Regions from separate parts of the Homo sapiens genome. Here regions 1, 2, 3 and 4 are each reported to be linked to region 5. The links are microRNA targets in miRTarBase. Many come from high-throughput screens and were not tested one by one. Region 5 holds a microRNA gene; each other region holds the end of a gene's coding sequence.
Evidence for each region. Region 5 holds the annotated microRNA hsa-miR-924 (AGAGUCUUGUGAUGUCUUGC, at 2,408-2,427, shown strand). A microRNA usually pairs through its seed, bases 2 to 8, with sites in the 3' UTR of a target mRNA and lowers its output. Matches are read on the target gene's strand: a 7mer-m8 pairs with bases 2 to 8, a 7mer-A1 pairs with bases 2 to 7 and ends in A, and an 8mer does both.

Region 1: the mRNA of SNAP29 is a reported target of hsa-miR-924. Seed matches in the 3' UTR shown: 7mer-m8 at 1,532-1,538 and 7mer-m8 at 1,241-1,247.
Region 2: miRTarBase lists DUSP5 as a target of hsa-miR-924. Seed matches in the 3' UTR shown: 8mer at 1,895-1,902.
Region 3: miRTarBase lists EMCN as a target of hsa-miR-924. The part of its 3' UTR that is shown has no 7-base or 8-base seed match.
Region 4: the mRNA of ZNF440 is a reported target of hsa-miR-924. Seed matches in the 3' UTR shown: 8mer at 2,773-2,780.

Annotation. Positions count from the first base shown.
Region 1 is chr22:20,885,638-20,892,283 of GRCh38, reverse strand. SNAP29 (synaptosome associated protein 29) reads right to left here. Exons shown (of 5, transcript NM_004782.4): 5 at 1,070-4,605. The coding sequence ends at 4,448. Among named protein-coding and RNA genes, the nearest start is that of CRKL, 28 kb to the left of the region's middle. RefSeq lists an enhancer at 6,013-6,513.
Region 2 is chr10:110,508,587-110,515,232 of GRCh38, forward strand. It overlaps DUSP5 (dual specificity phosphatase 5), which reads left to right. Exons shown (of 4, transcript NM_004419.4): 4 at 1,434-2,947. The coding sequence ends at 1,840. Among named protein-coding and RNA genes, the nearest start is that of DUSP5, 14 kb to the left of the region's middle. RefSeq lists enhancers at 3,606-3,685, 4,116-4,165, 4,246-4,515.
Region 3 is chr4:100,405,593-100,412,238 of GRCh38, forward strand. It overlaps EMCN (endomucin), which reads right to left. Exons shown (of 12, transcript NM_016242.4): 11 at 4,690-4,763. The coding sequence ends at 4,729. Among named protein-coding and RNA genes, the nearest start is that of SNORA101A, 14 kb to the left of the region's middle.
Region 4 is chr19:11,830,913-11,836,244 of GRCh38, reverse strand. ZNF440 (zinc finger protein 440) reads right to left here. Exons shown (of 4, transcript NM_152357.3): 4 at 1,029-4,877. The coding sequence ends at 3,281. Among named protein-coding and RNA genes, the nearest start is that of ZNF439, 15 kb to the left of the region's middle.
Region 5 is chr18:39,617,934-39,624,579 of GRCh38, reverse strand. MIR924 (microRNA 924) reads left to right here and starts at 2,405; the gene lies at 2,405-2,457. The region is part of intron 2 of MIR924HG (MIR924 host gene); the gene reads left to right.

The DNA.
Region 1 (6,646 bases), not on the chromosome of region 5:
GATCTGCCTGCCTCGGCCTCCCAAAGTGCTGGGATTACAGGCGAGTCACCATGCCCAGCCATAATGAGCACTTTTAATGACTAGCTCATCAATTTTTTTTAATATGGAATTTCGCTCTGTCACCCAGGCTGGAGTGCAGTGGTGTGGTCTCGGCTCACTGCAACCTCTGCCTTCCGGGTTCAGGTGATTCTCGTGCCTCAGTCTCCTGAGTAGCTGGGACTATAGGCACATGCCACCATGCCTGGCTAATTTTTGTATTTTTAATAGAGACAGCGTTTCACTGTGTTGGCCAGGCTGGTCTCGAACTTAGCTCATCATTTTATTATTTTTTAGAGACAGGGTCTCCCTCTGTTGCCCAGGCCAGAGTGCAGTGGCATGATCATAACTCACTGCAGCCTCAAATTCCTGAGCTCAAGCAATTCTCCCACCTTAGCCTCCAAAGTAGCTGGGACTAGAGGCCAAGCTATTTTTAAAAATTTTTTCTAGAGGTGGGGTCTCACTATGTTGTCCAGACTGGTCTCAAACTCCTGGCCTCAGGAGATTCTCCTGCCTCAGCCTCCCAAAGCACTGGGATTATTGGCATGAGCCACCATGCCCTGGCTCTAGCTCATCATTTTGTACTGACACCGCATTCATCAGAGCTGAAGATGCTGAACAACATTTGTAACTTTAAAATTCTACAGGTCACGTGTAATCCCAGCACTTTGGGAGGCTGAGGCGGGCAGATCACAAGGTCAGGAGTTGGAGACCAGCCTGGCCAGCACAGTGAAACCCTGTCTGTATTAAAAAAATAAAAAAATTAGCCGGGCATGGTGGTGCACACCTGTAACCCCAGCTACTCGACAGGCTGAGGCAGAATTGCTTGAACCTGGGAGGCGGAGGTTGCAGTGAGCCGAGATTGTGCCACTGCACTCCAGGCTGGGTGACTGAGTGAGACTCTATCTCAAAAAAAAAAAAAAAAAAAAAAAATCTGCAGAAAAGGCCCATATGGGCAAAGTATAAGATTATTACTAAATTGGTATAGTGTACACTTAAAATTACATATTCACAAAAAGAGGTTAAAGAGAAATTTAAATGCACTGACATTTTTATTTCTTGCAACCCGAGTTAAATTCACGTTTCATTTCCTACAGAATGCAAAAAAGACATCCACAAGGCAACTCCACTTCTAAGTTACAAATTACTAGATGTTAGAAAACTTTCTCGAAGGACAGTGCACTATTTTTTATTTTTTGAGACAGAGTCTTGCTCTGTCGCCTTGGCTCACTGCAAGCTCCGCCTCCTGAGTTCACGCCATTCTTCTGCCTCAGTCTCCCGAGTAGTTGGGACTACAGGCGCCCGCCACCATGCCCGACTAATTTTTTATATTTTTAGTAGAGACGGGGTTTCACTGTGTTAGCCAGGATGGTCTCGATCTTCTGACCTCGTGATCCGCCTGCCTTGGCCTTCCAAAGTGCTGAGATTACAGGCGTGAGCCACCGTGACCAGCCAGAGAGTGCACTATTTTTTTTTTTTTTTTTTTTTTGAGACGGAGTCTTGCTCTGTTGCCCAGGCTGGAGTGCAATGGCGCTGTCTCGGCTCACTGCAAGCTCTGCCTCCCAGGTTCATGCCATTCTCCTGCCTCAGCCTCCTGAGTAGCTGGGACTACAGGCGCCCACCACCACGCCCAGCTAATTTTTTGTGTGTTTTTAGTAGAGATGGGGTTTCACCGTGTTAGCCAGGATGGTCTCGATCTCCTGACCTCGTGATCCCCCCGCCTTGGCCTCCCAAAGCACTGGGATTACAGGCATGAGCCACCGCGCCCAGCCACTATTTTTTAAGTTAGTAGCACACTTAACATATAACCAACCTTAAGTTAGAAAAGTCATTTTTTGAAGGCACAGTTTGTTTCCAGCTCAACTGTGGAAATCAAAATCTGTCTGCAGTACCAAATCCCATCCCACAGTCAGCCCAGCCCTGGCACCATTTTGCTTGTCTCCATGAAATGTGTCTAGTCTAGAGGGTAGCATTTTTTTGTCGATCCCAATCATCATGTGAAAAGTTTCTGGAGCCATGTTACGTCTTCCTTCATTCTCTGTGAAAATGCAAGCAACTCATTTATAAAGTAGCATCAGCAACCAGGCCTTCCTGGGCATGGGAGTGGGGAAGAAGTGGCAGAAAGGACCAGCTCGCTGTCCTGTAGCTTACGGACAGTCCCCTCAGCACAGGACGTAGAACGAGAGGGTCTGAACAAGAACAGGACAAAACGAGGCCCTCTAATATGTCAGACGAAGACAAATTTCCAGAAAAGTGAAGGCAACTCCCCTTCCATATACCTGGGGTTAAGAAAAAAAAAACCAAAAAACAGAGAAGGGCGGGTGACTGGCTTCATCAGTCCAGCAAAAGACAGGGAATGTGCATAAAATAAGATGTTACTGTGCTTCAAGTCAGTTGAATCACTAATCTCATTAGGCAAGTGGAAGTCTGCTGAGAATGTGGCAGTGGCCTTTACATGTATTTATTTTAAATAATTAGCTTAGGTCTGAGCTATAATGACTAATCTCCACGAGTCTATGCCTGACGGTGATAAAAAGTTGACATACATGGAAGGTGTTAGAGGAAAGAACCAGAAACAATTACAGTAAGTGGAACCGTGCACAAAAGCTGCTCTGCATCCCGGGTTCATGCTTTTAAGCAGCCTTTTTGCTGAAAGCCTCACGAAGTAGTTTTGTTTGGGTTGAGTGTTATGTTTAAAATTTCCCTTCTACCAGTTATTGAGAAAATAATAATGCCGAGCTCATCTAATAAACAAATGTCTAGTTCGATAAGCTTTAATCAGGCCCTCACACCCTGGGATGGTCGTTAATGACATGGATCAGAATCCCTGAGGTGGCTGGAATCTAACAAGTGGGTAGCACAGAAAGCTCACCTTGCCTATGGAGGCTGTGGATATTTTTAGGAAGGTCATGCATTATGGGATGGGAATTTTTATAAACAAATTGCTACATAAAAACTAATGCACTGTTGCAGCACTTGTGGAGGTTTCCTTTGCTTTGAGACACCACTGTTTATAGGCTGCAGACTGTAAAGGGAAGTACTGGGAAATGGCAAAGGTCACATGGGCCAGTGCCATGTTTTAAGGTCAAAGGCACTGTTATTTTAAGTGACCTATCTCATTATTAAAATCAGTCACTTTCACCATCTTCAAAATATTTTGTTTTTTTAAAAAGACAAGGGCCTTGTGGCTCCAACTATTTTGTTGGATGTACCAACATAAATAAATCAGTTTTAATTGATGCTTCTGCATGATTTCTTTTGTAAAATGAAAGGAGAAAATGAACTGGGCCAGTTAAAATGGTATCTGGGCTTTTTGCCCCCTTAGCAAAATCCTTCTATACAAAGTCAGCGTCATTTATAGAGTGCCAGTCCTAAAACCAGGTGGCAGAGAAATAAGTGATGATTCAAGTTACCTTGCAAGAAGTGCAGAAGAGTGGGTGGGAATGCTAGACAGGTCAGGAGACCCCCGGTACCAAATAAACATTTTGCCCTACTGAGGCCTGCCTAATGGTGATTCCCAGAGGGGTGGAGGAAGACCATTGTGCAGCTGCATCTGTGCAATACTCCATTCCCACAAACTCTATTGGGCGCCCCTGTCGGTCAGCCTCGCAGCCTCGAGCCAGTGGAAGACCTGTTGCAAATCACAGATGGAGAGTTACAGATGGGAGCACGTGGGGAAGAGGGGCTCACCCAATTCCCCACACATTTCCAGGAGTCGCAGTGAGCAGTGCTGGTGTGAAGCCCTCCTACTAATATACATGCCAAGGATGGGGGGCTGGAGGGAAGCGGGGACATCTGCCAACAAAAGAGCAAGATGGCACACTCTATTTCCCATTCTAACACTGATCCTTTCTGGGAGGATGAAAGAATCACAGATAATGTGCTCAGAGAGTGTGTGTGTGTGTGTGTGTGTGTGTGTGTGTGTGTGTGTGTGTGAATGATGACTCCTAAACAAAGGTGTGGGAAGGACCCTCCTCCACCAAACGACTGGTTCACAGGCCCCCTTAACACTCTGACTCATGGTAAGGCTTAGGAATGAGAAATAGAGGCTCATGGCTGCAAGACTGAAATTCTGTTCCCATCTTTCCATATGCTCATTAAAATGAGAAATGCAACTCTTCTTATTCCAGCATGGTAATCAAACGCCCAAGATATGCAGGGCCAGGCTACTGTGCTCAGACAAAAACTCTAATAAGCATTTTGCTGGAAGAACTTGGTGAGGTGTTAACCCTAGGAAAATGTGGGACAAACACTTCCTTATAACAGCAAAAATGTCTTAAGACCTACTCTATTATAACATTTGCAAACACACATTAATTTACATACTAAAATAGTAAATGAAATTTCTTGGAAGTTCAAAAAAAGATCTTTCAAATCTTTTCATCACAATAGAGTGGAAATCCGTCTGTCTTCAGAGTTGTCGAACTTTTCTTTCTGTGCTTTTTATGTTGACATCTAACTTGTCCACTTTGGTTGTCAGCCGGTCAAGAATGTCATCTTGCTCCTCAATTTCTGTCTGCATCCCCAGGGCTATGTCCTTCAGACGACCCAGTCCCATGGACAGCTCATCTGCAGGAGGAGGAAATGACACGCAGGCATGAGCAAACAGTCACGGCACCTGCAAATGCTTCTTGATGGTGTGGGTAAGTGGGAGAGACAGGGATCTGTGTTGCCTGGGGGGACTGCACCCACTGCAGAGATGAGTCTTGACTTAATTGATTCTGTCAGGGTGAAGAGTAAAGCCTTTTCCCAGGTTTGTGACTGTGTGTGTGTGTGTGTATGTGTGTGTGTGTTTGTGCACGCTGGGGGTAGGGAGATATGCCCAGGGCTGCTTTCTGCCTTTTTACTAGGAACAGCAGCCAGGAAAGAGCCAGAGAGGAGAGAGAAGAGGTGGTGCTTTGTAAGCCTTCTTACTTGCAAGATTAAATATAAAACACTAAGAGAAAAAGGATCAGGATACACAAAGGCTTAGCACTGGTACCACAAATCTAAGCAAAATCAGTTTTTTGTTTTTTTTTTTTTTGAGACAGCATTTTGCTCTTTTGTCCAGGCTGGAGTGCAGTGCCATGATCTCGGCTCACTGCAACCTCCGTCTCCTGGGTTCAAGCAATTCTTCTGCCTCAGCCTCCTGAGTAGCTGGGACTACAGGCACACGCCACCACACCCGACTAATTTTTTTTGTATTTTTAGTAGAGATAGGGTTTCACCATATTGGCCAGGCTGGTCTCGAACTCCTTACCTTGTGATCCGCCCGTCTTGGCCTCCCAAAGTGCTAGGATTACAGGCGTGAGCCACCGCGCCCGGCCAAAATCAGTTTTTTTAAAAAGGTAGTTTTGGCCGGGTACAATGGCTCATGCCTGTAATCCCAGCACTTTGAGAGGCTGAGGTGGGTGGATCGTATGAGGTCGGGATTTTGAGGCCAGCTTGGCCAACATGGTGAAACCCCATCTCTACTAAAAAATATAAAAATTAGCCAGATGTGGTGGTGCATGCCTGTATTCCCTGCTACTCGGGAGGCTGAGGCAAGAGAATCACTTGAACCTGAGAGGAGGAGGTTGCAGTAAGCTGAGATCAATGCACTGCACTCCAACCTGGGCGACAGAGCAAGACTCCGTCTCAAAAAATGAAATAAAAAGATAGGCTGAGTGTGGTGGCTCATGCCTGTAATCCCAGCACTTTGGGAGGCCGAGGTGGGTGGATCACTTGAGGTCAGGAGATCGAGACCATCCTGGCTAACATGGTGAAACCCCGTCTCTACTAAAAATACAAAAATTAGCTGGGCATGGTGGTGCACACCTTGTAATCCCAGCTACTCGGGAGGCTGAGGCATGAGAATCACTTGAACCCAGCAGGCAGAGGCTGCAGTGAGCTGAGATTGTGCCACTGCACTCTAGCCTGGGCGACAGAGTAAAACTCTCAGAAAGAAATTAAAAAATATAAAAATAAAAAGATTGTCTTCAAGTCAGGCACAGTGGCTCATGCTTGTAATCCCAGCACTCTGGGAGGCTGAGGTGGGAGGATCACTTGAGCCCAGAAGTTGGAGACTAGCCTGGGCAACAAAGCGAGACTCCATTTCTAAAAAAGAAAAGAAAAGAAAGAGAAAAACAGTATAATTAAAATTAAAAAAAAAAAAAAGATAAGTCTTCAGCTCTTTGCTTCTTAAGCTTACTAAAATTCATGGCCTCGTGCTCCATGGAGAGCAGAGCCTGTGGTTGCCTCAGGCCTCAGGAGGAAGCTCACTGGCAGCCAGGGCAGCAAAGGATAAGCAAACAGAGAGGCTGAGATAAAATGTGTGATAATGTAAAACCACCAGGCCAGGGCGCTGGAGTCCAGAGAGCTTGCCTGAGATCCTGAAATAGCAGGGAGATAGTGTTAAGACGGGAAGAGTGTGAACAAAGGCAACACTCCCTGCCCCACCAGAGTGGACCGGCCTGGCCTGTGTCAGCAGGGCCAGAGGGCTGAGCTCTGAACTAGCCACTCGCCCTTCTGCCCAGGCCCACCTCCTACTCTAGACTGCGTCCTGCCGGTAACTGCCCAGCTGCTCGTCCACAGTGCCAACTGTGCACCCTCAGCACCTCCTAGTGGCGGGCAGTACTCAGCACTTCTTCCT
Region 2 (6,646 bases), not on the chromosome of region 5:
CATGTGGAAGGCAGGCTCCGAGGTGTCGAGTGGGCTCCAGAGGCAATACACTCTGGACCCTTTGCATTCTTGGATGTGGCACTAGGCCAGTTAAAAGCTAAACTTTGAAGGAGGCCAACAGAGGAGCGAAGGGAGATAGGAGCCCGACTCTGTAATTCTAGGGACTTGGGGGTCTCCCCTTTGAACTAATTTAAAGAGACTGTTTTGTTGTTTCTTTTGAGTCAGACTGAATTGGAGGACACCCCTATTGAACTGCTTTGGGGTATGCTGTGGGGTTTTTGTTCAGATGGGGAAACTCTAGGATTCCTCCCTGATGCCTCAGAAATTTTATCTTTTAGATCTTGCAGATTGATTTGCATACTTTGACCTTGGGGCAGGGAAGTGGAGGGTGGTAAGGGGAATGACTTTTTCTTTTGGCCCTTCAAAATCGTAAATGTTTTTGCGTATTGTAGCCTGCGTAGTGCCAGCTACATCTAACTTCCTGTGATGTAATTGTTTCCTCACTAGCAAGAGAGGGAATTGGAAAGACTGTATTTTTTGTGGATTTGATGTGTACGTATCTTTAACCTTTCACCCCTTCCCATTTTTAATAGTTGTAGCTGGTTTTCTGGGGGCAGGGGGCTGGGAGGTAGAACAGGAAGGGAGGCATCCTCCCCTTTTTGTCATATTGAGCTAAAGAATGCTAACTGATGGTGGTAGCTTTATAGCAGCGACTCCCATTGTTGAGCAAGATGGAATTTGTGAAAGCCATTTATATCCTCCGTCTAGTAGGCGTCACTTAGCCAGGGCTATAATTAGTGGCCATGCGCTATTTATTGTGTGTTTGGTGGTGAGAACCCTGGGAGCTGAGCCAAGCATCCTGCCCTGGCACAGCCAGACAGGGTGCCCGGAGAGACCGGAAGGCCTCTACCAGGATCGGGGTTAGGTTGTTACCCTTAGAATCAGACCTGGAGAGACAAGAGTTGCTTCTCCAAGTCAGTCTTTGAGCCTGGGATGCTCTCCTTAGAAAAATGTATGTGCCCAATAAAAATGTGCACAATTTCAAGGATTTTCCAATGCCCTCTTGGAACCATCAGTGGAACCTAGGTTAAGATGGCATCCCCAGGAAGGGACTGCTCCAGGTCCATCGCCTCCAGAGGCAGAATCTGCAAGTATCTTGGGAACTGTAAAGCTTCTGTGTGCTTATGTCTCTTGTGACAATAGCTGCTGTAAACTGTAAAGGTCCTACTTGGGGATAGTCTTTGCTGGGACCCCAAAAGCTCTATCCTCACCAGTGGGGATTAAAGACTGGCAGAAGTGTAGTGTAGGGCCGTGGCTCTTAGGCAGGCACAACAGTTTCATATCTAGGTTACTCCAGTGTTTGATTCTTGTGTTTTGCCATTGCCCTTAGATTCTAATCCCAACTCACTCCCACCATCTTTTCTTCCTTCCAGACTGTGTCAGGGAAAAGGGAGGCAAGGTCCTGGTCCACTGTGAGGCTGGGATCTCCCGTTCACCCACCATCTGCATGGCTTACCTTATGAAGACCAAGCAGTTCCGCCTGAAGGAGGCCTTCGATTACATCAAGCAGAGGAGGAGCATGGTCTCGCCCAACTTTGGCTTCATGGGCCAGCTCCTGCAGTACGAATCTGAGATCCTGCCCTCCACGCCCAACCCCCAGCCTCCCTCCTGCCAAGGGGAGGCAGCAGGCTCTTCACTGATAGGCCATTTGCAGACACTGAGCCCTGACATGCAGGGTGCCTACTGCACATTCCCTGCCTCGGTGCTGGCACCGGTGCCTACCCACTCAACAGTCTCAGAGCTCAGCAGAAGCCCTGTGGCAACGGCCACATCCTGCTAAAACTGGGATGGAGGAATCGGCCCAGCCCCAAGAGCAACTGTGATTTTTGTTTTTAAGACTCATGGACATTTCATACCTGTGCAATACTGAAGACCTCATTCTGTCATGCTGCCCCAGTGAGATAGTGAGTGGTCACCAGGCTTGCAAATGAACTTCAGACGGACCTCAGGGTAGGTTCTCGGGACTGAAGGAAGGCCAAGCCATTACGGGAGCACAGCATGTGCTGACTACTGTACTTCCAGACCCCTGCCCTCTTGGGACTGCCCAGTCCTTGCACCTCAGAGTTCGCCTTTTCATTTCAAGCATAAGGCAATAAATACCTGCAGCAACGTGGGAGAAAGAAGTTGCTGGACCAGGAGAAAAGGCAGTTATGAAGCCAATTCATTTTGAAGGAAGCACAATTTCCACCTTATTTTTTGAACTTTGGCAGTTTCAATGTCTGTCTCTGTTGCTTCGGGGCATAAGCTGATCACCGTCTAGTTGGGAAAGTAACCCTACAGGGTTTGTAGGGACATGATCAGCATCCTGATTTGAACCCTGAAATGTTGTGTAGACACCCTCTTGGGTCCAATGAGGTAGTTGGTTGAAGTAGCAAGATGTTGGCTTTTCTGGATTTTTTTTGCCATGGGTTCTTCACTGACCTTGGACTTTGGCATGATTCTTAGTCATACTTGAACTTGTCTCATTCCACCTCTTCTCAGAGCAACTCTTCCTTTGGGAAAAGAGTTCTTCAGATCATAGACCAAAAAAGTCATACCTTCGAGGTGGTAGCAGTAGATTCCAGGAGGAGAAGGGTACTTGCTAGGTATCCTGGGTCAGTGGCGGTGCAAACTGGTTTCCTCAGCTGCCTGTCCTTCTGTGTGCTTATGTCTCTTGTGACAATTGTTTTCCTCCCTGCCCCTGGAGGTTGTCTTCAAGCTGTGGACTTCTGGGATTTGCAGATTTTGCAACGTGGTACTACTTTTTTTTTCTTTTTGTCTGTTAGTTATTTCTCCAGGGGAAAAGGCAATAATTTTCTAAGACCCGTGTGAATGTGAAGAAAAGCAGTATGTTACTGGTTGTTGTTGTTGTTCTTGTTTTTTATAGTGTAAAATAAAAATAGTAAAAGGAGAAAAGCACTTCTTCATGTTGTTGGTGAATTGGGATAAGGTAGGAATACCCTTGGGTGGGGACCCAGCCTGCTTCATTGGGATTTATTTGTAAATGAACAACAGGGTGATGGTGGTGGAGGTGCAGCTATAGGCATGACGATACAGAATGTTGCTTTCCAACTGAGGGGTTTCCCTAAGCTAACCGGCAAGAGAATTCCTTAGTGCAGGCCTCATAGGGAGGTGGTGAGAGTATCTGCCCACTCAGGGCCCTTCACTGCCATCGCACTAGGCAAAGAGCTCTACTTGAACCTCAGATTCCTCACCTGTGAAGAGTGAGCTGAGTTAGATGATCCCAAGAGTCCCTTAAAGCATAAGGCCCTTGGTTCCAGTAAGCCTGAGTGCCAAGCTTGTGGCCAGCTACCTCCCTCCAGTGCCTGGCATATGGCAGACTCAGAAAAGGCTGGGTAAGTGGCCAAGGGATGGAGAAGTGAATGAGGTGAAAGTTTGCCCTGCCAGCCTGCCTGACGCCCTCTTTCCACTCTTGCAACTAATTCTAGATAATTCCCCAGGAGTTCCAACGTAAATCCCTCAATGAGTAGGTTTAAATCCAAGGCTGAATCGACTTGCTTTGTGAGTAACTTCCTCTGCGTAGGTGGAGGAAGGAAGGGGCAGTTGTCAGCTTCTCCCCATGATTGGCTCTGCCTGGGCTCCAGCCTAACTCCTGGGTCCTGTTCCTAATCTGAGGGAACAGGGAGCTGGTTGGGGTTTATGCCATCCCAGTCAGCTGATAAATAACAGGGATTCCAGCCATACTTCTCAATGCTGGAGGGTCCAAAGGGTGTCCAGTTCTCCCGACATGCATTGTGTCAACAAATAGCAAGATGGTGGCAGAGCACAGGCAGCCCAGCTCTCTAAATTCCTCACCTCAAAGGCTTTGCGTGAGGTCTTTCTCTCCACCTGTCTTTCCTTTCCCCAACTGTGTTCAGAGGTTCCTTGGAAAGTCCACAGATGAGAAGGTCACCCAGGGTTAGGATGCTGAATTTCTTTCAGCCCACTCCCCTCATCTGTGTAACCAAACAGCTTCCACAGTGAAGAGCACTAGACCAGATGGTGAGAAGTTGTGGGTTCTAGCCCTTGCCCTTCCCCCAGCTCTCCAGTGGTTTGGAGCTAATCTCCAACCTCTGTGGACTAGATTTCTCCAGGGCTCTTATCTAGCTGGTGCCTAATCCCTCGTGGTGTCCCATCTCTGAGCCTCTGACCAGCCTTGGAGTGTGTCCCTGAAGCCTGCCCATTGTGTGGGCCTATGCAGGTGCTGAGTGGCTAAAGGAACCTTGGGTAGGGAGAGCCGGGGAGTAGGAAGCTGGATGCAGGCTGGGGTGATGTGCTAAGCTCAGCCCACTTGCTGACATTTGCTTTATTGCATTAAAGTCTTTCTCTGAAGGGTGAGTAAGTCCTCTAAATCAGGCATATGAGGATTGCTCATCGGCGGGTGAGTCACTGGAGGGTAAGCCAAGTGAAGCCCCACAGCTGGAGATGGCTCTAGAACCCTCACTCCACTTAATAGTCTCTTCATTGATTACATCTCCATTCTTGCCAAGACCAACTCTACACTGGCTTCCAGTGCCAAATGGGGAATTCAAGCTGATGGCGTTTAGATCCTTCATCCCCAGGTTTTGAGAAACACCTCTGTCGGTCTCCAAGCATCATCGCACATAGAGATGTGTTCAGGAGAAGAAAGATGTTAGTTCTCTCTTTCCCGGCTGTACCTGTAGGAAGCCCCCTCAGATCCACCCTAGCTAATGAGCTAGGCCAGATGGGGCAGGAGTTGTGTGAGCAGTCTCTAACCAGGATCCAGTGTGCTGGCAGGAGTCCTGGGTACTGTGGATCTTCACTGTGTGAGGCCCTCAGGAAAGTGCCTCACCAATTTCAATACTCTGAACAGCTCTATCTCTTTGAGTTACTGGTTGTTCTTCTGAACACCATAAAGCTCATGACTGCTCTGTTTCCCTTCCTTGCTAAGGCCACCAGGCAGCTCAGAACTAAACTCTTAGCCCACTTCTGGCAGTTTTGTAGGAACTTAACATGAATTTTGGGTGTTGATTCCACCGTTTCCTTTAAAATTTCCCATCTTTATTTTTCTTTTACTTCCATTTCCTCATCATTCTTAAAAAGAACAGCAAAACTTTTACACCCTCTTTAAATAGACTCCACTGCATTTATGGAATGAAATAGGGTATAAATATATAGAGAGTAGCCTGTGCATCCTCAGTGTTACTATTGTTCAACTCACTCTGAAGGGTTCATCCATAAGACTGGGTTCCTTTACCTTTTCAGTGAGTCTGCCAAGTCCTGTATTACTTCTGAAATAGATTCTGTACAGAGCCCAAACCTCATAGCTGGGGCCCTGGATCCTTGCCTCAGAATCACTAGCACTGCCCTATACTTTCAGCCTTGTATTCTGCTGCCAGTACCATTCTATGGAGAGTGTTGGCACTGATGGACGGATGCTCAAAGCTACAGCGCAGGCCCTCCTGACCCCTAACCACTGGATGGGATGGAGGGGACTCCCATGCTTAGATAACCATCACCCTTCCATCCACTTGACAACCCCTGCTAGAACCTGGAATTCAGGGGAAAACAGCCAAACAGCCATATGGCCCCACCCTCATGGGTCCATGAGTACTGATGACTGTTCACTGGCTTTCTGTCCCTGCCTGGAGCCGACCTCCTTAGTTGGACCAATGTCGTTAGCCCCACACAATCCCCTTCTCCAGCTCCCCTCTTCTAGGCTCTAGCTTCATCTTCTATCTGTGGTTCAGCACAACCTTGTACCCAAGCTCCTCAGATTTGCCAGCCTGTGGTTATGGCTGTGTTACTGTGCCAGCAATCCACACCCTACTCAGCCCACCCCTTAGTCTCTCTTGCATTGTTCATTAATTTTTTTTTTTTTTTTTTTTTTTTTTTTTTTTTTTTTTTTTTTTTTAGAGGGAGTCTTGCCCTGTCGCCCAGGCTGGAGCGCAGTGGCCCCATCTCAGCTCACTGCAACCTCCACCTCCTGGGTTCAAGCAATTCTCCTGCCTCAGCCTCCCAAGTAGCTGGGATTACAGGCATGTGCCACCATGCCCGGCTGATTTTTGTATTTTTAGTAGAGACAAGGTTTTACCATGTTGGCCAGGCTGGTCTTGAACTCCTGACCTTGTGATCCACCCTCCTCAGCCTCCCAAAGTGCTGGGATTACAGGCGTGAGCCACTGCGCCTGCCTATAAATGTTTTTATATCTCATTTTTACAGATGCACAAACTGAACCTCAGAAATATTAAGTAACTTGCCCAAAGTCACACAGTTAGCAAAAGGTAGAGCTCGAATGAAGCTATTTCATTGATCTTGTACCCCTCTGAACACCTGGGGTATATAATAGGTACTTCTGTCCATTGGGCTTTTGTTTGCAAGGAAGTCTCCTCAGTCTACTTTAAGGAAAAGTGTTTGTGGATAAATGCAAATAGCACTGAATCCCCAGTTATATTCCATTCCAGCCACATTGGCTTTCTGACAATCCCTTAAACATGCCAACATCCCTCCTGCCTCAGGACCTTTGCACATGCTGGTCCCTCTGACTGGAATCTTTCTCCTATAAATTCCCCCTCCAACCGATTAACTCATACTGGTTTTTCGCCTCTCAGTTCAAAATTCACCTTGCCAGGAAAGCCCTCCCAGA
Region 3 (6,646 bases), not on the chromosome of region 5:
TTATGACATTCTTCTGGGTTCAGTTTACTTTACTAGTATTTTGTTGAGAACTTTTGCATCTAGGTTCATCAGAGATATTGGCCTGAAGTTTTCTTTGTTCATTGTGTTTCTGCAGGTTTCATGATATCAGTGTGATGTTAGCCACATAGAAAGAGTTAGGGAGGAGTTTCTTCTCGTTTTTTTGGAATTGATTCAGTAGGATTGGTACCAGCTCTTCTTTGTACACCTGGTAGAATTCAGCTGTGAATCTGTCTGGTCCAGGGCTTTTTCTGGTTGGTAGGGTTTTTTTATTACTGATTCAATTTTGGAATGCATTATTGGTCTGTTCAGGGTTTCAATTTATTCCTGGTTCAATCTTGGGACGTTGTATTTTTCCAGGAATTTATCTATTTCTTTTAGGTTTTCTGGTTTGGGTACATAAAGATGTTTGTAATAGTCTCTGGATTTTTTGTTTGTTTGTTTGTTTTTGTATTTCTGTGGAGTCAGTGGTAATATCCACTATCATTTCTGATAGTGTTTATTTGGATCTTCTCTTTTTTCATTTTTAGTCTAGCTAACAGTCTATCAGTCTTATTTATTCTTCCAAAAGGCAAACTTTTGGTTTTGTTGATCTTTTGCATAGTTCTTATCATCTCCATGTCACTCAATTCATCTCTGATTTTGGTTATTTTTCTTTTGCTAGCTGTGGGATTAGTTTGTTCTTATTTGTTTAGTTCCTCTAGGTGTGATGTTAGATTGTCAATTTGAGATCTTTCTGATTTTTTGATGTGGGCATTTAGTGCTATTAACTTTTGTCTTAACACTGTTGAAGCTGTATCTCAGAGATTCTGGTATGTTGTATATTTGCTTTCATTAGTTTTAAAGAATTTCATAATTTCTGCTTTAATTTCATTGTTTACACAAAAGTCATTCAGGAGCAGATTATTTAATATCCACTTAGTTGTAGGGTTTTTAAAAATCTTCTTGGTATTGATTTCTACTCTTATTGTGCTGTGGTCGGAGAATGTGGCTGGTATGATTTTGGCTTTTTTGAAATTATTGAGAATTTCTGGCTGAGCATGTAGTCAATTTTAGAGTATGTGTCATGCATGGATGAGAAGGATTTATATTCTGCTTTTGTTGAGTGGACTTTTCTGTAGATGCATGTTAGTTCTATTTTGTCAATTGTCAAATGTAGGTCCCAGATGTCTTTGTTAGTAATCTGTCTTGATGATCTCTCCAATATCATCAGTGGGGTGTTGAAATCTACTATTATTGTGTGGTTACCTATGTCTCTTTGTAAGACTAAAAGAATTTGTTTTATAAATCCAGGTGCTGTAGTATTGGGTGCATATATTTAGGATAGTTAAGTCTTCTTGTTGAGTTGAACCCTTTATCACTTCCTTTCTTTGTCCTTTTTGATCATTTTTGGTTTAAAGTCTGTTTTGTCTGAAATAAGAATAGCAACCCCTGCTCTTTTTTGTTTGTTTTCTATTTGCTTGATAAATCTTTCTCCATCCCTTTACTCTGAGCCTATAGGTGTCCTTGAATGTGAGATTGGTCTCTTAAAGACAGCATACACTTGGGTCTTTCTTCTTTAATCAATTTGCCACTTTATGCCTTTTAAGTGGAGTGTTTAGCCCACTACCATTCAAGGTTAATATTAATATGTGTGGATTTGATCCTGTCATTCTGTTGTTACCTGGCGTTACGTAGACATGATTGTGTTTTTGCTTTATAGCATCAATGGTGTATGAACTTTAGTGTGTTTTTGTAGTAGCCAGTAATGGTCTTTCATTTCCATATTCAGCACTCCCTATGAACCTCTTGAAAAGCAGGTCTGGTGGTAATGAATTCCCTTAGTATTTGCTTGTCTGAAAAGGATTTTATTTCTCCTTTGCTTATGAGGTCTAGTTTGGCTGGATATGAAATTCTTTGTTGGAATTTCTTTTCTTTAAGGATGCTGAATATAGGCCCCCAGTCTCTTCTGGCTTGTAGAGTTTTGGCTGAAAGGTCCAGTGTTATCCACTGCTGTGGTTCCCTTTGTAGGTTGACCTGCTCATTCTCCCTAGCTACCTTTAATAGTTTTCTTTTCACATTGACCTTGGAGGATCTGATGACTATGTGTCTTGGGGATGGTTGTATTATATAGTATCTTGCTGGGGTTCTCTGAATTTCCTGAATTTGAATATCAACCTCTCTAGCTAAGTTGGGGACATTTTCATGGACAATATCCTCAAACATGTTTTCCAAATTGCTTGCTTTCTTTCCCTGTCTTTCAGGGATGCCAATGGGTCATAAGTTTTGTCTTTTTACATAATCTCATGTTTCTTGGAGATTTGTTCATTTTTGAAAATTCTATTTTCTTTATTTTTATCTGACTGTTAATGTGAAGAACTAGTCTTTGAGTTCTGAGATTCTTTACTTGACTTGGTCTACTCTGCTGTTAATACTTCCAATGTGTTATGAAATTCTTGTGGTGAGTTTTTCAGCTCTGTCAGATCAGTTTTGTTCTTTCTTAAAATGGCTATTTCATATTTCATTCCTTGTATGGTTTTGTTGAATTCCTCAGATTCCTCGGAATGGGTTTCAATCTTCTGATTTTCAGTGATCTTCATTGCCATCCAGATTCTGAATTCTATTTCTGTAATTTCATCCATTTTATTCTGGTTAAGAATCACTGCAGAGCAGCTAGTTCAGTCATTTGGAGGTAAGGAGGCAATCTGGCTTTTAGAGTTTCAGGAGTTCTTGAGCTGGTTCTTTCTCACCTATGTGGACTGATGTTTCTTTAATTGCAGTGTAATTTGAGTATAGTCAGTCGGTTTCATTTCTGTATGTGTTCAGAGGGCTGAGGCTTTGTGCAGGGTCTTTATTTGCAGTTGAGTTCTTGTCCTTGGTTTTACAGAGGAGTATATTACCAAAGTATTTTTGGTGTTGAAGTTTGGTTTGCAATTTAATAGATAGTGCTTAAACATAATGACTGGTAGATAGGCTCTTACCCAGCCATGCAGCCCCTCTGTGTTTCCTCACATTTGTAGCCATGCTTCCCCTCAGTGCTCTGAGAGTGTGTGATCCTCTCCCACTCAAGTGCTGGTCATAGATCTCAGCTTAGCACTCCCAGACTGTGCACTGCAGGCCTGAGACAAGCTTAGGATTTTTTCTCTCTCCCCAGCTTGGTGGCAGCAGGGGCAGGGACCTTGGCATGCCACTCAGAGCCACTGCCAATTAGAATAATCAGCTGGGGAAAGGTGGTTGCATTGCAGGCCCAAGCTAGGGGCTCATGACTGGTGAAGAGCAGGAGGGCAGGGGAAGGCAGTCTTGCCTCTTTTCCATAGGGCACTGCAGCATGCTGGAGGTGCACAAATTCCAAGATTCCTAATCCATCCCTAATTACTGGCTAGAGAGGGATAAAATTCTGATACTGACACATATGTTTGGATGGCACTCCTCTGTCTCTGTCTTCTGCTACTGGTCAGACAAGCACAGCAGGTACCATTTATTCTACAAGAAATTTCTGAGTGTCTGTAACAGAACAGTGTTAGTTAATTAGGGATTAGACATAGGCCATGAATAACAATATTTCTCATCGTGGACACTTTACCTAGAGTGACTATCATTGTGGTCAGGCCAATTCTGGACACGTATTTATTTTATTTTATTTTATTTTTTATTGTTAGTTGCCGAAAGGTAGATTCTTCTGCAAGTTTTATAAAACCTCAAAAACTAAGTGACAGCACTTAATCAATACTTCTTGTAACAATTAAATTAAAGTCAGAAGAGCATTTCCTTACTTAGTTCTAGGAAAGTAAAAGTCAATCCCATACCAACTGGGAGACTTAATTCCAAAGCAGGTTTAACGTTGGCCTGAGCTGTTTACTAAAATAAGAAACGTACCTGCCTTGAGCTTACTCCTGGTCATGACATGGAACATACTTTTGAGAAATTTCCATTTTTTATTGATTCACAATTATTGTAGTAAGATTGATCATTTGTATCTGGTTTTGTCAAGATACCTGGAGGGCTCTGTTGCTTGGCTGGTTACACAGCAAGACTATGTCTACATGACCAGCTGAGTAAAAGGAAACCTGGCTGAAACTGAATTTTAGATCATCTTGTTTGAGGTGTTTTTTTCCACACATCCATGGTTTCTGGACCCAGAGAGAAAAATATAAGGACCATATTCTGGTATGGTCCTTATAGAGAGAGGGCAATTAGACCCTTCAACTAGCTTCTCTGAACCCATTTCCCTGAGCCAGCCTACGGCTGTGATACACATCTTTACTTTAATGCAGTTTCTATATTTTATCATTTTCTTGCAATAAACTGCAAATTTGCAAGCACCGTCACTTGGATTCTGCCAGTCTTTGTCAGCAACAGAAGCCTGTCTAAGTGCCACAGTTAGTGTGTGCTTACTGACCTAGGTAGGCAGACTGAATTTACAAGGAAACATTAACAACAGGCAGAAAGAGCAAATTGTGTCATTCCTTAGACAGGCAAGAGAATTGGACAAATCGTCTACAACCACCAGGTCATTCATTTTTTGGCAATTTTTGTTAGAGTTTGTTTTTAGACAAATAGACAATGATCATTGCATTGACACAAACCATTAGCTTTCCAGCTTTTGAAATTCTTTAAAAACAATCTAAGCTGCACCAGGCTAACAAAACAGATATTAATGATTGTCTCCGTGAATGAAATTGGGAAACTTACGTAATTATTGCCTAGGTGTGGAGAGAATTCCTCAAGCTGTCAGTTCTTGGTTTTTCCTTGTGCAGAGTGCTCACCTGAGAACAGAAGATATGTTTTGATCTGTAAGCTCAGAGACTGAGTAAGGATGAAAATAAAGTTTCCTAGCTTTTTTCTATTTTTCAAGGAAAGTTCAACTTTCCTGCAAGAATGTCATTAAAGCCACCATTTGCCTCTTGGTATTGTCTAGAAATTAGTCACCAAAATATATGAACTTTTCCCAGACATCATCTGTTTTCACTTTAAAGTAGCAATATGAAGTCCTGGGTGGGATAGGTCAGGGGGCAGTGGGGGCGGGGATGTGAGTTGGGAGATGATAACATTAGAGAAACCCTGGGGAATAAGTATTGATTTTTGCTTGTTACATGAGCTGGCTGTGCCTAAGCAAGCCCATGTCATGTGTTTAAAGTGCCATTTTATCAGGAAGACATTCTAGGGTCCTTCTGTTTAAATAATTCAGTGAGGGTTTTGTGAAAATGAATTTATAGGCCAATATGAACACTTGGGTGATATACAGAGCAGCGCAGGTGCCATTACTCAAAATCCCAGTGCTATTCCACCATCCAATATACAGAGAAATATTAACCTAGGATGGTGGCAAGCTGAGAGGCCCCAAGTATTTTTCACATGCCACTGGATTCATGACCAATATATTTCGCATTACTTGTGTCCTTCAGGTAGAATCGAGTATCAACATCAGTCAAACAATATAAAAGCAATATAGGTCAAATCTCCGGCTTTTAGAATAATTCTCATCATTTTGCTCCAGCTTTTATCTGCCACTTGTTAGGAAATCTGTCCTTTCGGGACTCTGAGGATGTCACCTGTTACTTGTACCATCACGGCAATAATAAATAGTGCCAGAGACCTCTGAGGAGAACAAATTCAAGACTCCTCTTCAAGAGCTCCTTCGATTCTATGCTCTGAGAAATGTTGGGCATAGTTCTGCAGCACCCCCAGCCCCTGCTCCAAGGCAATCTTTTGCTAACTATTGTTCGTTTTGCAGAAGACACAGCACCTGCTTGGAACCCACGGCTATGAAGTACTGGAATGAGAAGTAAATAAAATAAATATTGAGTCATCCCCTAGTATCTGCCAGAAGTCATGCAAAGCAAGTCATTGAAAATCTTTACAATTCGTAATATTCTTCCTCAAGGTCTGTTTAATTGACAGACTAGAAATTTTGAGAAAAATTTAATAACAATATGATATCAGTAACAAGAATAATGATATTTATAGTAAAAGAAAACAACCCACACACATATCTAGTGAAAAAAAAATCCAGAGGGAAATATATCAAATACCAGTAGTGGTTGTATGAAGATTGTTTCATAGGTAGTTTTAAATTCTTTTTTATTCTCTATTTTTTTCTATTTTTCATTATGCATAATCTGGTCAAATATTAAAATGGTAGTTTCAGCCATGAAGAAATATTATAAGGCAGTAATATATGTTAATTTGCCAAATTAACAACATGTTAAGATGAGGGAAAGACTATTTGTAGTTGAAACAGTCAAGGAAGCTTTGGTGGAAATGCAGAGAATGAGACAAATATTGACGGGCTGCGGACAGAAGAGGATTCTATATATGGCTTTATAAATTTGTGAATGTTTTGTTCATTTTTACTCTGTGGTTTTTTTTTGTTGTTAATGAACTTTTACTTGTAAAAATAAATAAGCAAACAAAGATGACTATGCACTTAATGAGTAATTGCCATAGCATACCAATTAGTTAGTTTGCTAATGACATATTAATTATATGTAATTACCATTAGAGGGGTAAGTGTACATGACAAAGGAGAGCAAGAGACTCTCTCTTCCTTCTAGAAAGCTGGGTTCAGAGAGAGAGACAGTCAGGGGACAGGGAAGGGAATGAATGAAGTCGGAGAAATATGCATTATTATTGTATATCAAGTGCTTTC
Region 4 (5,332 bases), not on the chromosome of region 5:
GTCTCCAGGCTCAAGCCATTCTCCTGCCTCAGCATCCTGATTAGCTGGGATTACAGGCACACACCACGATGCCCAGCTAGTTTTTGTATTTTTAGTAGAGACAGGGTTTCACCATGTTGACCAGGCTTGTCTTGAACTCCTGACCTCAAGTGATCCACCCGCTTTGGACTAGCAAAGTGGTGGGATTACAGGTGTGAGCCACTGTGCCTGATCAGGTTTCACTGCCCTGTCTTCCCTGCTCTGAGTCACTTTGTGTGATCTGACAATCAACGACTCCACCCTTCACTGGTGTGGATACATTATCTGGGACTGGGTGTGTCATCTCCACACACAGACAGGGTTTGGTCAGTGGCTGATGCTGCATCTTGTGGTGCCTGGATTTTGACCTTAGGGAGTTTGAAATAAGCGTTCCTAAAGAGCAGCTTCATTGGAACCTTAAAGGAAGTGACTGAATTGCTCTATGCCATTGCATAATATATAAAAGAAACTTTTCCATGTTGCTGTTAACTTTACACTGCTGAGATAAGCAGGCTGTTGACAAGTTAACCTCAGCAGCACATTATCAGAGAAAGTTAGCCTCAGCAGCACATTATCAGCAGCACATTATCAGAGAAATATAAGACAGGCTTGTATTTAGACAATTTACACAAATTTATTAGCCTCCTATGACTCAGTAAAGCAATTTGAAAAAATATAGCTTTATAAGGCATAAACAAATTTATATGTTTTAACTAAGGTACTTTCTGGTAAACAGTGCCTGTACATTTTAGGAAATATTTTAGTCTTTAGAGAATAAGTAAGGCAAAAACAGGTCCAGGAGTTTACAGATGCCCTCCCCTCACCACAAGGCCAAGTCTTTTTTTTTTTTTTTTTTTTTTTGAGATGGAGTCTTGCTCTGTCGTCCAGGTTGGAGTGCAATGGCGCGATCTTGGCTCACTGCAAGCTCCACCTCACAGGTTCACACCATTCTCCTGCCTCAGCCTCCCAAGTAGCTGGGACTGCAGGAGCCTGAGACCACGCCTCACTAATTTTTTGTATTTTTTAGTAGAGACTGGGTTTCACTGTGTTGGCCAGGATGGTCTCCATTTCCTGACCTAGTGATCCGCCCGCCTCGGCCTCCCAAAGTGCTGGGATTATAGGCGTGAGCCACCGCACTCGGCCCTAAGGCCAAGTCTTTTTTTGTGTTTTTTAAGACAGAGTTTCACTCTTGTTGCCCAGGCTGGAGTACAATGGTGCAACCTCGGCTCACTGCAACCTCTGCTTCCTATATTCAAGCAATTCTCCTATGTCAGCCTCCTGAATAGCTAGGATTACAGGAGCATGCCACCACGCCCTGCTAACTTTTGTATTTTTAGTAGAGACGGGGTTTGATCATATTGGTCAGAATGGTCTCTAACTCCTGACCTCGGCCTCCCAAAGTGCTGGGATTACAGGCGTGAGCCACCATGCCCAGCCAAGGCCAAGTCTTTTATTGTTGGAGAGACACGTGTCACATACCAGGCATATGAGACGATGCTCCTCAGTGACCATGATGAATCAGGACAAAAACAAGGGCATTTTGTAACTATATTTTTAAATGTGATAGAGGAAAACGTATTTCAAATCATAAACATGACCAAAATTTTTCTCTTCTTACTAATGTGACTTGTAATTCTCATACATCTCACAGTCATTTATGGCTTTTGGTCATATTTATCACTATGGTATATTACACCCTTGCTGACAGCAGGTATGGCACTGCTGGTTTTGGGGAAGAAGGCACTCAGAGGTGCATGAGATAACTATTGGTATTATGACTGAATGAAAAATTAGGGTTGCAGCTGGGCATGATGGTTCATGTCTGTAATCCCAGCATTTTGGGAGGCCGAGGTGGGTAAATCATGAGGTCTGGAGTTTGAGACCAGCCTAGCCAATATGGTGAAACCCCGTCTCTACTAAAAAATACAAAAAATTAGCCTGGCATGGTGGCGCATGCCTGTAGTCCCAGCTACTCAGGAGACTGAGGCAGGAGAATTGCTTGAACCCTGGAGGCAGAGGTTGCAGTGACCTGAGATCATGCCACTGCACTCCAGCCTGGGTGACAGAGTGAGATTCTTTCTGGGGGAAAAAAAAAAAGAAAGAAAAATTAAGGTTGAGATAAAAATGTAAGTACAGAAGCATGAAAAGTAAAATTTTCGAATAAAAAGATGTCTGGCATTTTATCCACATGGTTATACTGACTCACAATGTCCAAATAATAACAATTTAACAGTATAAGGCTGATCTAATACATGACACCAATGGGATATTATAGCTTCTTATTTAAAAAGAATATCATTTGTTAGTATACAGTTATTATAAACAGTTAATTGTTTACATTCATTATCTGTATTCAAAGAATCTTGTCAGGTCTGAACGCTTTCCCATACTGCTTACATTCATAGGGTTTTTCTCCAGTGTGAGTCCTTCCATGCATTTGAAGGTGCGAGGCTGATCTGAAGGCTTTCCCACATTGCTTATATTCATAGGGCTTCTCTCCAGTGTGAGTCCTTTCATGATATTGAAGGGAACTAGAAGAAATGAAGGCTTTCCCACTTGGCATACACTCATAGGGTTTCTCTCCCATGTGAGTCCTTTCATGATATTGAAAAGAAGTGGAAGAAATAAAGGCTTTTGCACATTGCTTACATTGATAGGGTTTCTCCCTAGTGTGTTCTTTCATGATATTGAAAAGAACTGGAAGAAGTGAAAGCTTTGCCACATTGCTTGCATTCATAGTGTTTCCTTCCAGTGTGAGTCTTTTCATGTCTATGAAAGGAAGTAGGCAAGCTGAATGCTTTTCTGCATTCTTTACATTCATAGGGTTTCTCTCCATTGTGTGTTCTTGCATGTATTCAAAGGATCTTGGCAGATATGAATGCTTTCCCACAATGCTTACATTCACAGAGCTTCTCTCCTCTGTGCATCCTTTCATGTATTTGCAAAGAAGAGAAATTATGGAATGCTTTTCTACATTTCTTACATTCACAGGGTTTCTCTCCAGTGTGTGTCCTTTTATGAAATCGAAGATTTTTGACAGATCTGAAGGCTTTCCCAAATTGCTTACACTCATAGGGGTTCTCTCCAGTGTGAGTCCTTTCATGATATCGAAAGGAAGTGAAGGAAACAAAGGCTTTCCCACATTGCTTACACTCATAGGGTTTCTCTCCAGTGTAAGATTTTTCATGTATTTGAAATGACTTGGCAGAATAAAAGCCCCTCCCACATATCTTACATTTATAAGGTCTCTCTACAGAGTGCATTATGTGTGTTTGTGTCCTTTCATGAATTCGAAGGTTCTGGGCAGATCCGAAGGGTTTCCCACATTCCTTACATGCATAGGGCTTCTCTCCATTGTGTGTCCTACCACGTATTCAAAGGTGTGGGGCAGATCTGAAGGCTTTCCGTCATTGCTCACACTCATAGGGTTTCTCTTCAGGGTGAGTCCTACCATGCATTCAAAGGATTGACACAGCTCTGAAGGCTTTCCCACATTGCTCGCATTTATAGGGCTTCTCTCCAGTGTGAGTCCTTTCATGATATCAAAAGGAACTGGAACTACTGAAGGAACTACTGAACGTTGCTTGCATTCATAGAGTTTCTCTCCAGTGTGAGTTTTTTCATGTCTTTGAAATGATTTGGGACAATAAAAGCCTTTCCCACATATCTTACATTTATAACGTCTTTCTCCAGAGTGTATTCTTATGTGTGTTTGTGTCCTTTCATGACTTTGAAGGTTATTCACATATCTGAAGGCTTTCCCACATTCCTTACATTCATACGGTTTCTCTCCAGTGTGAGTCCTACCATGCACTCGAAGGTGTGAGGCAGATCTGAAGGCTTTCCCACATTGCTTACACTCATAGGGTTTCTCTCCAGTGTGAGTCCTTTCATGATATCGAAGGGAACTGGAATGAGGGAAGGCTTTACCACACTGCTTACATTTATAGGGTTTCTCTCCACTGTGAATTTTTTCATGTCTTTGAAATGAATTCACAGAACAAAAGTCTTTTCCACATATCTTACATTCATAAGGTCTTTCTCCAGAGTGCAATCTTACGTGTGTTTGAAAACTTGTAAGAGAGGATAATGCTTTCCCACACTGCTTACATTCATAGAGATTTTTCCTAGAGTGGGTCCTTTCATGTATACGAACATAACGGGGACACGTGAATGCTTTTCCACATTCCTTACATTGATAAGCCTTTTCTCCCATGTGAATCCTTTCATGTCTACGATAGGATCTGGGACTATGAAATGCTTTCCCACACTCCTGATATTCATAAGGCTTTTCTCCAGTGTGAGTTCTTTTATGTATTCGATGGGTAGCAGAATAACTAAAGGATTTACCACACTGTTTACATTCACATGGTTTCTCTCCAGTGTGAATTCTTTCATGGATAAGATATAATCTGAGACAATGGAATGCTTTCCCACAAAACTTACATTTATAAGGTCCATCCCCACTGTGCATTACCATGTGTCTTCGAACACTTGAATGGGAAATAAAGGTTTTTCCACATACTTTACAAGCATTGGGTTTCTCTCCAGTGTGATCCCTTTCTTGTGTTCTAAAGGAGGGGCGGTATCTGAAGGCTTTTTTAGGTTGTTGACACTTACATGGCTTTGGTCCATATTCCTGATACTCATATGCCTTGTGTCCAATGTCACCTCTGATGTTCATATTAAAAGATGAGTTACCTAGGCCAACTTCTCCACACACAAAGCTTTCACATGATTTTACTTCAGGAGAAGCTTTCTTCTCCTGGAAGTTCAGTCTGTCATCTGGAACTGGGGTAAAAGTTTCTCCACAATGACTGTCATCTTTAATTTCATTGACTTTTTCTTCTATGAGACTCCTGTCAAAAATGAGAAGCATATTATGAAGGGTTTGTTTATAAGTACTTCTATATTAATCAACAAGTATTGCACTTGCATTTTTAACACTCTCCATCAAAGTGTAGGCTTTCTGCCCTGTCTGAATTGTTTGAAGGTGACTGGACAACATATTCTACAAGGTGACCCAGCCATACCTATTATTTAAAAAACTGTTTATATGGGGTATCTTAATACTCTTCCCATGTAAACTATTTTAAAATACTAAATACTCTGTGTCATTTTTCTTTTGTTTCAGGGTCTTATCCTGTTGCCCACACTGGAGTGTGGTGATATCACCATAGCTTACTGCAGCCTTTACTGGCTCAAGTGATCCTCCTGCCTCACTCAGCCTCCTGAGTAGCTGGGACTACAGACCACAATGCCCAGCTAATTTTTTGCTGTTGTTGATATGTGGTCTCGTTATGTTGCCCAGGCT
Region 5 (6,646 bases):
TTGTTCTTCATCCTCAGGCTTACATGATTTAAACTAATCATTTCATTTAATACATAGTTAAGTGTATCCTGGCATAATAATTATCATTAATCAAACTTAAAAGGAAATGTTTGTTACTTGGAAATTAGGTTTTATTCTGGCACAGTATCTTTAACTAGCTGTCCAGATGTTAAAATTGATTTCTGGAAGATCTAAGTTGAGATCTCAAGGCATATAAACCTCTAATTCTTACTGTGATTGGTAATCAGTAATTCTCAATTTCTTAAATTAATTATTTAATTCTGCCAAGAAAAGTGATCTTGGGATTCAAATAAACGTGACTTTGAATCTGAATACTATACATTACTGATGACTTTAGCTAAGTTACTTAACATTTTATGAACAGTTTTCATACATCTAAAATGGTAGTGATAATGCCTACACCCTAGAATTGTTGTGAGAATTAAATAAAATAATGGATGTATGAAGGGATTAAGTATGTGACTGGCACATAGTAAGGGCTCAGAAAATGCTATTATTTTGTTAAAGTCAGAAAAAAGGAAACGTACTATCAGGGATTCAAGTACTTGGATATAAGCAATAGTTTACAAACATTTAGTTTCTTTGAATCTTGCGTTGTATTTTAAAACTGTGTGCATTTTTAACTTTTCCTCACAACAATCTGTTTGTGTTAACATGAAATTCTCCATCAAATAATAGGTCATATTGACCTTTAAAGAAAAGAGTATGTAAAATTCTACTTCCTAACACCTAGAACACCATGCTTCAAAACAAGATGCTGGGATAGAGGAAAGCTCATTTAACAGTCTTAATATTGTCAGTTAGTATTAATGTAACATTCATATTTGTGAGAGATAACATTGACTCCCAGAGGAAAGAATGAAAATACCCTAATATTTGCCATATTTACCCATCTAAATCTTATGATCTGAATCTCAGTGACCTTTATTGATCAGTCATAGTAAGCCTAGGAATACAGGAGTGAAAGCTTATTAAAAAGTTTTACAGTAGGAATGAAAAGAAGTAAAGTAAACATGGAAAAGGGCCAAGTGGGTGACTTGAGAGATCCACGTGCTCTCCATCCGACCCTTGACTTGGGGTTTTATACATTGGCGTGGTTCTGGGGTTTGCATTTCATCTCCCTTGATTTTTTTTTGGGCTGGCTATCTGTACATACGTGCAGTGGTCTGTCAGCACTTGAGAGGGGCTGCATGCACAGTGTTTACTGCAATTGTGCACATGCTCATTTGAGGCATTTTTCCCTTACCAGTGGAGTGTTCCTAGAGGAAGGTCATATACCAATTAAACTCTACCATTTTGCCTTTTACTGTGCATACTTAAGCCTGCTCACCAAACTCCTGAGATCTTAGGAAGCTACTGATCACCAGTTTCGCGTGTTTTCTGTCTTTTGGGAGACTGCCATTTCCTGGCACCAGCTATGGTTGCCCTTCACGGGGTAGAAGGCCCTCTCCTGCCATGCTCATGTCTGCCTAGCTACCTATTCTAACATTCTGTGCACCTAAAGGTTGAAAATGAAGCAAAATTAATATAATTGAACAGTTTATTTGTGCCAAGGTTGAGGACTGCTGTCCAAGAGTCATAGATTCAAGTAGTCCTGAATATATGCTGCTGTTAGCATTTACAGCAGTTCCAAGTGGATTTTCAAAGAAAAAATGAAGAAGTAGAAGTTAGAGGCAGTTCCTAAAAATTTTTTAAATAAGGTATATTGTTTATTGAAATAATAAGCTGTTGACTATTTATTATTCTTTGTATCATAAATCCCAGGAACATGAAGAAAATAGGTGAGAGTCACATTGTAAAACTTGGGGTAATATTTTAGGAAGTTTATCAGCTAGTCTGGAAACTACACGGAAGGAAAGAAAAAAACCAAATGCCTTTAAACAATTACCCTCCAAGCATGGATGTGTGGGATGAGAGGGTGAGTGAAGTCTCATGCTCATGGTTCTCTGGGCATGAAAAATGTTACATACCTCACATTCCTCAGACTACTTTGAGGAATCTATAGATAAAAATTGGGGCAAAAAGGAAAATTTAAATTCATGTCTGAGCTGGAGAGTAGAGAAAATGGTACAAAGAGACTCATATAAAGAAGGATTCACTTAGGGTTTGGGTTTCTATTCCACACACTGTTAAAATATGCTCTTGGCTGATGGACAAAATGGACTTCTCTTGGCTAACTGAGGTGCTCAAGGTTAAAACAGAACCAGGCAGCCAAGGCTGGGTGAGGAAGGGATCACATACTCTGTATTCTTGGGAAAATGTTTTAAAAGTGTCACAGGACCTCTTTCTGCAATCAAACTAAACCAGTTTCTGTTATTTATCCTAAGATAGATTGCTGGTGAAAATTCCTCAACTGACCACCCACAGACCACCTAAGCCAGTCAATAGAGTCTTGTGATGTCTTGCTTAAGGGCCATCCAACCTAGAGTCTACAACTGATTCCCTTCCATCCTATGGTTTTTGCCTTTATAATAATTTTCTACTCCTTGACTCCTCTTCGGTGTGTATTTTGGTTTGCACTGAAGGCTGCATCTCCCCAGTCTGCAGATTGCTTTTAGAAAATAAAGTTCTCATTTTGCCTCTGTAAATCTCATTGGTATATACTGTAGGAGCAAAGAAAGCTTCCCCTCTGCCCTCTAAAGGTTTGCTGAAAATAAACTGAAAATAGGCAGATTAATAATACAAAAAGGCATACAACATTTATTTAATGTGCAGGAGTACGAGGGAATCACAGGAGAATGATGGCCCAATAACTCAATGAGGTCCAGGTATTTATATAACCTTCTCAGGAGAAGGGGCAATCAAGGTTGTAGCAATTTTGAGGGGTAGTAAATGATTTTTAGGGGGAATGAATGGACTCAACAGACAAAAATTAACTTGGAAATGATTCTCTTTGGAATTCAAATAAGGCTGAGAGACATTATCTTATAAAAATGTCCCTCCAGATATGGTTGCATTCCTGTCTTCTTTTCTGTGATAGGTAATGAGATTTCAGAGAGGGAATGGAGGGCAGTTGGGTTCCTTTGGCAGGTCCAGTCTTAAAGTAGATAAGGAAATTTCAGAGAAAAGCCTAAATCCTGTGCTTTGTTTGGAAGAGCACATTGTCATATTTTTGGGTATTGTTTTCTGAACCCCAATAATAGGCACACAGATAATTTTTCCACTGAGGACTCCACATTTTAAATTATTTAGCAATAGGCTTTTTGACATTTTTACTAATCATAGGTATATACTCTCCAAATTTTTTGATCAGCACAAGCTATATCACTTCAACCAGAGTTATTCCAATGAGTTGTTACTTTACACAAAGCAAAGAAGCCTGACATTGATCTAAGTCTGAGCAGGTTTTTCTTAGTTACCTGAAAAAGGCTTTAATTTAGTGTTTTCTTGTTTGTTTGTTTGTTTTCAATATTACAGAAGACTTGTGAACCTTTATCACTTAGCCCCATGGGTCTAAAGACCATATTAGAATGACAGACCAGAAGTGAATCTTTCTCCTCTGGTAGCCAATATTGAAGTATTTGGAAGTGGTGACATGTCTGGTATTCAAGCCCTAGGAGATATCTGAGAGACTGATCAAAGGAGCAGGGGAAGCCTGTCTCTTGTATGCCCCAATTTCACAGAATACCTCTTTGTATTTTATAGTCTTTTACTATCTGTTGTTGCACTTAGCATAGAATTGCAAATTCCTATTGATTGATTAAACCAATTTAGACTGGTTCACTTGTAGACGGCCCAAAGGGAAAAACAGAAAACAAACAAAAAAGAAAAAAATATCTAAGTTATTTCACTTCAAGGGCCTCTGAATGTGTGTTGCAATACAGAGAACAATGATCTCCTCTGTCACGCAGTTTCTTTTTTCAAGATTCCTTATAGGTTGTTACTGTTTTCCCCCACCACAGTTTGTAAATAGCAGAATATGAAACAGGCAGTTGTTCTAGTAATTTGCAGTTTCAAACCTACATCTTAATGCCTTTCCCCCTAAGTCATTAATTACAGCACAATGGATCAAAATCTCAAGCACACACCTCCTTCAGAGGACTATGGCTGGTTTTATAGTTCAGGAAAGGGCAGAGCCAACTGTCTTTTCTTCTGACCCTTATGAATTGCATGCACACCCAAGCCAGCTTGACCTCTTTATCTAAAATCTTGAAGTTGTGACCCAGGGAGGGCCTGTGAAGACAAGATCTATAATGAATGTGTGACTTAAATATGCTTATACTATGATTGACTTTGTGGTCACAGTGGCTATATGATATAGTTTAGATTAGTGCACCCACACAAATCTCATGCCAAATTGTAACCTCCACTGTTGGAGGAGGAGCCTGGGGAGAGATGACTGGATCATGGGAGAGGACTTTCCTCTTGCTGTTCTCGTGATACTAAGCGAGTTCTCATGATATCCAGTTGTTTAAAGAAGTGTGTGGCAACAACTTCTTTGCCCTCTTCCTCCTTGTTTGGCCATGTAAGATCTGTCTGCTTCTCCTTCACCTTCTGCCATAATTGTAAGTTTCCTGAGGCCTCCTTAGCCATGCTTCCTGTACAGCCTGCAGAACTGTGAGTCAATTAAAACCCTTTTCTTTATAAATTACCCATTCTCAGGTAGTTCTTTATAGCAGTGTAAGAACGAACTAACACAGAAAATTGGTACCAGGAAGTGAGGCATTGCTAATAAGATACCTGAAAACATGGAAGGAGCTTTAGAACTGGGTAATGGGCAGAGGTTGGAACAGTTTGTGGGGTTCAAAAGAAAACAGGAAGACGAAAGAAAGTTTGGAACTTCCTAGAGTTGTGTTGAATGGTTGTGACCAAAATGCTGATAGTGATACGAAAATAAAGTCCAGGCTGAGGAGGTCTCAGATGAGATGAGAAATTTACTAGGAACTGGAGTAAAGGTCACTCTGTGTCCCAAATTGGTGGGTTCCTTGTCTCACTGACTTCAAGAATGAAGCTGCGGACCCTCGCGGTGAGTGTCACAGTTCTTAAAGATGGTGTGTCCAAAGTTTGTTCCTTCTGATGTTCACACGTATTCGGAGTTTCTTCCTTCTGGTGGGTTGGTGGTCTCGCTGGCTTCAGGAGTGAAGCTGCAGACCTTCCCGTGAATGTTACAGCTCTTAAGGCAGCGCGTCTGTAGTTGTTCAATACTCCCATCTGGAGTTGTTTATTCCTCCCGGTGGGTTCGTGGTCTTGCTGGCCTCAGGAGTGAAGCTGCAGACCTTCGTGCTGAGTGTTACAGCTCATAAAGAACGTGCGGACCCAAAAAGCGAGCAGCAGCAAGATTTATTGCAAAGAGCGAAAGAACAAAGCTTCCACAGTGCGGAAGAGGACCCTGAGAGGGTTGCCACTGCTGGCTGGGGCAGCCTGCTTTTATTCCCTTATGTGGCCCCACCCACGTCCTGCTGATTGGTCCATTTTACAGAGAGCTGATTGGTCCGTTTTGACAGGGTGCAGTTTGGTGCGTTTACAATCCCTGAGCTAGAAACAAAAGTTCTCCAAGTCCCCACTAGATTAGCTAGACACAGAGCACTGATTGGTACATTTACAAACCTTAAGCTAGACTCAGGGTGCTGACTGGTGTGTATACAATCCTCCAGCTATGCATAAAGGTTCTCCAAGTCCCAGCTAGACTCAAGAGCCCAGCTGGCTTCACCTAGCGGATCCTGCACCAGGGCCACAGGCGGAGCTGCCTGCCAGTACCGCGCTGCATGCCTGCACTCCTCAGCCCTTGGGCGGTCGATGGGACCCGGCGCCACAGAGCAGGAGGCGGTGCTTGTTGGGGAGGCTTGGGCCACGCAGGAGCCCACGGGGTGGGGGGAGGGTTGGGGAGGCTTGGGCATGGCGGGCTGCAGGTCCTGAGCCCTGCCCTGCAGGGAAGCAGCTGAGGCCTGGCAAGAATTCAAGCATGGCACGGGCAGGCCAGCAGTGATGGGGCACCCGGAGCCCCCTCAGCAGCTGCTGGCCTTGGTGCTAAGCCCCTCACTACCCTGGGCCGGCAGCTCAGACCGGACGCTCTGATTGCGGTCCCGCCGAGCCCACACCCACCTGGAACTTGTGCTGGCCCATGAGCGCTGCGCGTTGCCCCAGTTCCCACCCACGCCTCTCCCTCCACACCTCCCCCCAAGCAGAGGGAGCCGCTCCAGCCTTGGCCAGCCCAGACAGGGGCTCCACAGTGCAGCGGCGGGCTGAAGGGCTCCTCAAGCATGACCAGAGTGGGCGCCAAGGCCGAGGAGGCGTCGAGAGTGAGCGGGAGCCGCCAGCATGTTGTCACCTCTCAACTCTGCTATGCTTTAGCAAAGAGACTGGTGACAGTGTGCGCCTGCTGTAGGGATCTATGAAATTTGAACTTGAACATGATGATTTAGGGTATTTGATGGAAGGAATTTCTAAGCAGCAGAGCATTCAAGATGGGCCTGGCTGCTTCTAACAGTGTATGATCCTATGCGTGAGCAAAGAGATTATCTGAAACTGGAACTTATATTTAAAAGGGAAGCAGATCATAACAGTTTAGACAATTTGCAACCTGACCATGTGGTAGAAAATAAAAATCCATTTTCGGCCAGGTGCAGTGGCTCACCCCTGTAATCCCAGCACTTTGGGAAGCTGAGGTGCATGGGTCACAAAGTCA